Linked DNA regions of Homo sapiens: all the other regions are linked to region 3. Evidence: fine-mapped expression QTL. A gene starts in region 3. Each other region holds a variant in brackets. All regions are shown on one strand. Distances are from middle to middle.

What was found. PIP is the estimated chance that this variant, and not a neighbour inherited with it, causes the effect.
Region 1: its variant is the best candidate, but not a certain one, in a credible set for the expression of MAPK9 in monocytes (TOPMed, PIP 0.70).
Region 2: its variant is the best candidate, but not a certain one, in a credible set for the expression of MAPK9 in monocytes after interferon gamma (Fairfax 2014, PIP 0.67).

What each region holds. Positions count from the first base shown.
Region 1 is chr5:180,312,315-180,315,070 of GRCh38, reverse strand. It overlaps GFPT2 (glutamine-fructose-6-phosphate transaminase 2), which reads left to right. Exons shown (of 19, transcript NM_005110.4): 14 at 1,107-1,264; 15 at 2,527-2,641. Among named protein-coding and RNA genes, the nearest start is that of MAPK9, 22 kb to the right of the region's middle. RefSeq lists an enhancer at 1,028-1,322. The variant A/G (reference allele first, on the strand shown) is at 1,244.
Region 2 is chr5:180,268,946-180,271,701 of GRCh38, reverse strand. MAPK9 (mitogen-activated protein kinase 9) reads left to right here. Exons shown (of 12, transcript NM_002752.5): 3 at 2,293-2,422. Among named protein-coding and RNA genes, the nearest start is that of MAPK9, 22 kb to the left of the region's middle. The variant T/C (reference allele first, on the strand shown) is at 1,705.
Region 3 is chr5:180,291,066-180,293,821 of GRCh38, reverse strand. It overlaps MAPK9 (mitogen-activated protein kinase 9), which reads left to right and starts at 1,739. Exons shown (of 12, transcript NM_002752.5): 1 at 1,739-1,974. LOC124901151 (a long non-coding RNA gene) reads right to left here and starts at 1,590. Exons shown (of 2, transcript XR_007059085.1): 1 at 1,522-1,590. RefSeq lists an enhancer at 619-1,261 and silencers at 1,184-1,523, 1,534-1,903, 2,034-2,223.

The sequences.
Region 1 (2,756 bases), 21 kb before region 3:
CCATTTCCATTTTGTTGACAAGTGAAGAAAAACCAGTACAGATACACCGACCATCCGGCCCACCACCTTATGACGCAGGAGCTGCTGCCGTGTTCACCTTTGGGTTTCTGATCCCACCAGAGCCTCAGACTATTTTATAAATTGGTGGGAGACATTAACAAAAGAACAGAGGTGGAGCTAATATGAAAATAATGCAGTGGCAGCTTCCGAATCTCTGTGTGTATAGAAGTCAGCCCTTTAATGAGATTGAAAAAACACTATCGAACCCTAGGGCGCGGGTGACAGAAGTTAGAACCCCCTTTCCCGCACCCTCACCGCAGTACCCCGTGACACTCCAGTGCCATAACCCAGGGCTCTGAAGAAAGAAAAGCAGAGGAGAATTGGGCCACCTAGCACCGGGCGGCACCTGCCTGCCCTGCAAAGCTGGGACAGACACAGCCAAGAGCAGTGGCCCTGCAAACAGAACAGCCTCCCGACTCATGAGGATTTCAACAGTTTTGATTTTATAGTCTGGCTTATGCTGAATTTAATTTGAGTGCTTTAGGACTCACAAACATAGGGAGCTTGTGCTGGTTTATGCATGAAGCTGTTTAGCTTTATTCTAAAAACAATTTGAGTCCACACTGAGAGGCTTGCAAGAAGTGTCCTTTCAAACAGGATCTAGCTGAGAAACACCACTTGGGGACATTCCTGCTTGTCAGATGTTAAATCTGTTCCATCTCAGCACGTTCTGAATAAGGCAGCTTATTCAGTTGCAGAGAGGGCGCTGGGAGCCAAGCCCACCTGTCACCAGCTGTATGGCTTTGATCAGAGCACCGGTTTCCTCCTGTCTCTGAGCCCTCATCCTCAAGAGGAAAATGGGGACGATGGTCCTCACGGGGTTGTCACGAGATTTAAATGAAAAGATGCTTGCCACAAATAGTAACACACCTTGAATGTAAGAATCAACCGAAAAGGCTGTTGAGCGAGCGTTTTCCTTTCTGAACACCCGCTGGCTGTGTCTCGGGCGCCGATTTCCCTGTAAGAGCCGGCGGTGAAGGAGGAAGGGGTTTGGGGTGGGGCCGAGGCTGGCGGAGCGCGGCACTGAGAGGGCCCCTGGGCGGCAGGCGAGACCGCGGACACCCTCCTGGCGCTGCGCTACTGTAAGGACCGCGGCGCTCTCACCGTGGGCGTCACCAACACCGTGGGCAGCTCCATCTCTCGCGAGACCGACTGCGGCGTCCACATCAACGCAGGGCCGGAG[A/G]TCGGCGTGGCCAGCACCAAGGTAGGAGGAGCCACGGGCGCCCGTCCCAGGGAGAGCCTGGCGGAGGCAGGTGCACCAGAGGCCGCCCTCCTCCGGCCTGCTCTGCCCGCGCCACCGCCTTTCTTTCCCCTTCCCGCCTCACCCCTTCTCTCCGCTCCTTTCCTTTCCCCTCCCCTCTTGGATTCCCGTATCTTCATTTTTTTTATTTTTATTTTTATTTTATTTATTTATTTTTTTTGAGACGGAGTCTCACTCTGTCGCCCAGGCTGGAGTGCAGGGGCGCGATCTCGGCTCACTGCAAGCTCCGCCTCCCGGGTTCACGCCATTCTCCTGCCTCAGCCTCCCGAGTAGCTGGGACTACAGGCACCCGCCCCACACCCGGCTCATTTTTTGTATTTTTAGTAGAGACGGGGTTTCACCGTGTTAGCCGGGATGGTCTCGATCTCCTGACCTCGTGATCCGCCCGCCTCGGCCTCCCAAAGTGCTGGGATTACAGGCGTGAGCCCCCGTGCCCGGCCCCCATATCTTCATTTAGTCTCATTTTATTCCCATGCCACGTTCCTGTGTTTCGTCCATGTTGTCCTGTGGCTCTTTGAGCACCTTGGAGATGCTTATTTTAAAGTCCTTTAGGGCTGGCACGGGGCTCCCCCCTGGAATCCCAGCACTGTGGGAGGCTGAGGCGGGAGCATCCCTTGAACCCAGGAGTTCCAGACCGCCCCGGGCAACCCCGTCCCTTCAAAAATAAAACTTAGGCCAGGTGCGGAGACTCAGGCCTGTAATCCCAGCACTTTGGGAGGCCGAGGCAGGGGGATCACCTGAGGTCAGGGGTTTGAGACCATCCTGGCTAACACGGTGAAACCCCGTCTCTACTAAAAACACAAAAATTAGTCGGGTGTGGTGGCGGGTGCCTGTAATCCCAGCTACTCGGGAGGCTGAGGCAGGAGAATCGCTTGAACCTGGTAGGTGGAGGTTGCAGTGAGCCGAGATCGAGCCACTGCACTCCAGCCTGGGTGACACAGCAAGACTTTGTCTCAAAAACAAAATAGAAATAAATAAATAGATAAATAAAACCTAAAAATTAACTGGGCAGGGTGGTGGCACCTGTAGTCCCAGTTACTCGGGAGGCTGAGGTGGGAGAATCACTTGAGGAGGTTGAGGCTGCAGTGAGCCGTGATCTCGCCACTGCACTCAGGCGTGAGCAACAGAGTAGACCCTGTCTCAAAAATAAAAGTTGATTTAAAAAGTGAAAATAAGGTCCCTGCCACCTCCTTCTTTGTGCACAGGCTTATACCAGTCAGTTCATCTCTCTGGTGATGTTTGGTTTGATGATGTCTGAAGACCGAATTTCACTACAAAACAGGAGGCAAGAGATCATCCGTGGCTTGAGATCTTTACCTGGTATGTTCTAGAATTCAGCTTTCCATGTTTTCAGATCTAGTGGACTGTTGCTGGCCATTCTCTGTTGACTCTCACCTGTACAGGATGTTGTTCATTTCTTCTTCCTCCTAAAACT
Region 2 (2,756 bases), 22 kb after region 3:
TAGTGATATTTACATTGTACACATACACACCTACACTCCATGTATTGATTTTCAACTTCTAGAAACATCCTAAAGAAGAAATACAGAAGACTTAGTTATGAATATATGGTAAATGGAGGAGAAAGGGATGGAACAGTCTCATTTTACGTAAGCAGAAGTCAAGACGTTCCCTTCAGAGTTGAAGAAGCGTGAAGATTAGGGGTGTTACTTAAAGACGTAACCAGGGAAAACCCAAAAAGCAGAACAACAAAAAAAATAGGAGGTGTTGGCGATTGGGGATTTCAAGGAAGTGGCCAAATACTCAGTTTTCGTAATGGGGAGTAGGTGAATCATTTCTAAAGCTGATAAATGAAGAGATAGTGATAACAATGTATTCTTTGAGTGACCGCAATAACCACAACCAGGAATAACTGAAGGTAGTTCCTCATGGAGCTGAGCTACAAGTGGGGAAGCTTATGCCCACTTAGATGCTTAGACTTGGTCCATTTGCCTTGTTTTAGCCAAAAACTTTTTTAAAATGACAAATAAAAATTGTATATATTTATCATGTCCAGCATATTGTTCTGAAATATGTATACATTATGGACTAGCTAAATTGAGCGAATTAACATATGCATTACCTCACATACTTTTTAAAAGTTTCTGATGAGAACAAATCTACTCTCATCAATTTTCAAGAATACAATACATTGTTATTAACTGCAGTCACCATATCTCACAGTAGACCTCCTGACCTTATTCCTCCTATCTAACTGAAATTTTGGACAAAAACTTTTGATACCAAAAAAGTGTGTCTGTTTTCAAATTCTTTTTTTCTTTTTCTTTTTCTTTTTTTTTTTTTTTGAGACCCTGGGCAACAGGGTCTCAGTCTGTCACCCAGGCTGGGGTGCAGTGGAGGGATCAGTGCTCACTGCAGTCTCGACCCCCGGCTCAAGCAGTCCTCCCACCTCAGTCCCCTGAGTAACTGGGTCTACAGACATGCACCACCACACTCAGCTAATCTTTGTATTTTTTGTACAGACAAGGTTTCACTGTATTGCCCAGGCTGGTCTCAAACTCCTGGGCTCAAGCGATCTGCCTGCCTTGGCCTCCCAAAGTGCTGGGAATACAGGCATAAGCCACCACACCTGGCCTATTTTCAAATTCTTGAGTCTGAGAAGTATATAGGTATAAATACATACATGGCTACATGTATGTCAATGACTTGTTTCACAAGTGGATATATCCTTCTCATTTTATAATTCATATAAATGGTGCAATTTGCATATGAACCTGTGGATTTACATATGTATATAGACAGACACATAATATGAACTGAATTAAAGTAAGGTAGCTTCTTAACCAAATGCTACAACAGATAGCCTTCAACTTTAAAACAGATTGAATTAGGTTCGAGTTTGGCAAAAGCATTAATAGAAGAGAATAAATGTAAACAATGTTATAAACTCAATGGAATAAAGAAATAGAAACAGTATTTAAATCAGTGCTTAGGTTCTCAGGTGGCCTTTAGTAGCTGTTAGCCCTCATGAGTAGCCCAGAGGTGATAATACAAATGATACTATTTAGTACCAGTTTGAAACCTAAAAATGTGTAATCAGGCTACTTGATTCTTCATGTCTATTTTCTGGAGGAAAATGAACAGAATTTCAACAGGAAACGAGATGCTGGAAACACAGCCTGTAGATTTTATTCTTACTATAGTAG[T/C]AGGAGGAGATAGTTCTAAAAGAACTTTATATAGCAGTTGCTTACGTTAGAGATTTTGTATCTTGAACATTTACCATGAGCTGAAATTTTGGCTTCTTTTCTTTTTAGATACTGTTATTTGTGAAAAAAACACAGTGATTCAAAATTTAGATTTATTCTCCTCATGAATTCAGCCATTTCCTCTACTGTGATATTCCAAAATATACACATTTTAAGACAGGAAACAGTGACTTTGTTTCCAACTTCTTGTCATGTTTAAACTGAAGATTTCATTTCTTGACTGGTTTTATGCACTCTATATTAAATTACCTGGTTTTGAATGTAATCTAAACTATGAAACCTTGGTGTGTGAAGGATTGCTGAACCCCATCTTAACTGTGGCTGAAATGTGCCTCTGCAAAGGAGTTAGTACATGCTGTAGTCTTAGACAACTCACTCTGCTCTTCATATGTGCAAGTACCTTGAATGAAATAAGCAGATTTTTCCTTGTTACTTATTAAAAAGATGATATATTCAATGTATATTCTGGCATTGCTGTATTTTCCAAAACCGTTCTAATGGATTGTGCATTATATTTCCTAATTCTAGTGCTGCATTTGATACAGTTCTTGGGATAAATGTTGCAGTCAAGAAACTAAGCCGTCCTTTTCAGAACCAAACTCATGCAAAGAGAGCTTATCGTGAACTTGTCCTCTTAAAATGTGTCAATCATAAAAATGTAAGTTATGTATGTATTTTGTCTGTGTGCTTCCATATTGTCAATAATGTGGTAATCTTCAGGGTTTTCTGGAGATACATTGAGTTCAGACCTAGGATAAGCTAAGGATAAAAATGGCTATTAACATTGGTTTTTTGTTTTTTGTTTTTTTGTTTTTTTGTCGCCCAGGCTGGAATGCAGTGGCGCAGTCTCGGCTCTCTGCAAGCTCCACCTCCCGGGTTCATGCCATTCTCTTACCTCAGCCTCCCAAGTAGCTGGGACTACAGGCGCCTGCCACCACGCCCGGCTAATTTTTTGTATTTTTAGTAGAGATGGGGTTTCACCATGTTAGTCA
Region 3 (2,756 bases):
TCTCATGCACTTGAGGCAGGTGGCAGGTGAGTCTGAGGTAGCGACAGGTGTGGGCCCTCCTCAATGCAGGCCACACTGTGACGTAGAATTTCAAGCAGCGATGAGCCATGCTCAAATTTAGAAAACTCCCTCTGGTGGCCAAGGGGGACACCATGCTGGATCCGTTCCTCTACCCCACCCCTCCTCTGAGGCTCTGGTGCCTCCAAGCGGCCTGGCCCAGACCTCAGTGCCCTTGGAACCTGGGTCACAGGCTAGCTGCCCTCCCCAAATTCTGCAACCACCCTTCACGCCACCCAGCCCCTTACCCTCCCCATCTGCAGAGTCCTGTTCCTTCTCCCCACTCTGGCCCTGGCCACTCTGTGGATCCTGGTATTGTGTTACTGCTGTTCTACACCACACTCACCATTTGTCAACCATTGTTCCCACTCTTCTAGTCCCCAAAGGCCGGCTCTCCACGGTTTTCCCCATGTGCCCAGCCTCAGTGCCTCTCTTCCTGCTTCACTTTTCAACGTAGATCTGGCAACATCCCAAGCCCCGGCCTCTCCCATCCTGTACGACCCCCAGGCCGCTGGTACCTGATCCAGCCTCAAAAGCAGCTCAGAGTCAACGGGTCCCAGTCCCTAGGGGGCTCTGAGCAAGAGACTCCTCGCCCCGCCCCCCACTCCTCTCAGAGGCTTGACTGAGCACCTCCCTTTTTTTTTTTTTTTTTTTTTTTTTTTTTTTTTTTTTTTTTGAGAGAGTCTCACTCTGTCACCCAGGCTGGAGTGCAATGGCGCAATCCCGGCTCACTGCAACCTCCGCCTCCCAGGTTTAAGTGATTCTCCTGCCTCAGCCTCCCGAGTAGCTGGGATTACAGGCGCCCGCCACCACGCCCAGCTCATTGCTTCGTATTTTTAATAGAGACGGGGTTTCACCAGGTTAGCCAGGCTGGTCTCGAACTCCTCACCTCAGGTAGTCCACCCGCCACGACCTCCCAAAGTTCTAGGATTACAGGCGTGAGCCACCGCGCCCTGCCGCACCTCCTAATTTTTAGATGTTGTCAACTAAGTGATCCCGCCACCAAGCGCAGTCTCCTCCTGCGTCACCGACCCACCGGGTCACCTGTCTACACACCGCCATCTCTTCGCACCCCCTCCCCCTCTTCGACCCGGCTTCTGGCCTCACCCACACCCCCATAGACCCGTTCCTCCGGCGCCGCAGCGAGCAACCGAGTGCGAGGCCCGCCCCGCCTACCGGGCCCTAGCACGCCGGGCTCCCGGACGCCAGGCCGGCCTCCCCCCGCGATCGCCCCGGGCTCTCCCCGAAACGGGCGGGCTCCCGTGCCGCTCCAGTCGCCTCACCGCCACAAGCCTGCACCTGCAGCCCGAGGCCCGGCTCCCCGCGGACCCCGCGGTGTGAGCCCCGCGCGCCTCCAGCCCGGTTCCCGGTCCTCCGGGCCACCCTCTCCACCGAGCTGCGCCCCCCTCGCAGGGAGAGCGGGCTCAGCCGGTGGGCCGCGCAATGCCTGCGTCTCCAGCTCACCGCGTGCACTGCGCGCACCCGAGCGCCATGGCCACTCGGCCCGCGCCACTGAAAGGCCCGGGGGCGAAGAACCCGCGGAACCCCGGCCCAGGACCTCGGGCGCCCGACCCGGCCCCCGACCCCGCCCGCGCCACCCTCCATCGGCCCGCCCCCCAGGCGCCATTGGCCGCGCCTGCTCCGCTCTCCGCGCGCTGATTGGTCGGCGCGAGGGTCTGTCAGACCGGGCGCCGCGGCGGCGGCAGCGGCGGAGAAGGGAGCGGGACCGGAAGGGTCGCAGCGCCCCGGCGCCCCTCACACCCACTGCGGCGGCGGCGGCGGCGGCGGCGGCGGGGCGGAGCGGAGCGGGGCGGGCCGGCGGCGGAGCCGGGGCCGCGGAGCCAGGAGTGACTAGCACGCAGCGCCGCCAGTCCGCCCGCCCGCCCTCTCCCCGTGGCGCGGCGGCGGGGAGGCGAGGTGAGCCCGGCGGGCGGGCTAGGCCTGGCGGCGGCTGCTCGGGCCGGGCCCGCGGGGAGGGGCGGTGAGGGAACCGCGCGGCCGGGGGCTTCGGGGCGGGCCGGGGGCTGCGGGGCCCTGGCAGCCGCAGCCGTCGCCCCTGTGCTGGGGGATGCCGCAGGCGCCCCCTTCCGCCCGGCTGTCAGCAGCCCCGGGCTGCGGGCCTGCTCACCGGCCTGGCCCGGCCGACCTGCCCGTGGGGTCTGCGGGCGCCATCCCTCCCGGAGGTGGGGCAGACAGCTGCACTCCTGCGCCGGGTGCCCAGGGGCCCGGGGTCGCGTCCCCGCGACCTTGGCCAAGGCACTGACCCTCGCTCTGCCGCGGTTTTGCCTTCGGGAAGGTGGGGAAATGTCTCTTCTGGACAGGGTTGTTGTCAGGCTGTGTGAATGTATGCAGACGCCTGGGCAGGACCCCGGTGTGCATCTGTGGAAGACTGGGCAGGGTGCTGGCCCGTGCTGGTGTGAGTGGTGTAGGAACCCCCTCCCCACCCGCCCAGCCTCCCGCCTCCCCGCGCACTCCTCTCTTGCCTTGTCATTGCACACTCGGTGTCCAGCAGTGCCAGAGGGGACCCAGCCCGAATCCCTTACCACCGCGCCCCTCCCCCAGAAGACTGCTGCCCCGTCCCACTCATCTCGCCCGCCTTGAACATGCCAGCCCGCATTTGCCCCAGGACCTTTGCATTTGCTGTTTCCCCGTCTTTGGAGTTGTCTCCGTGATCTTGGCACAAGTAGCTCTTTCTGCTC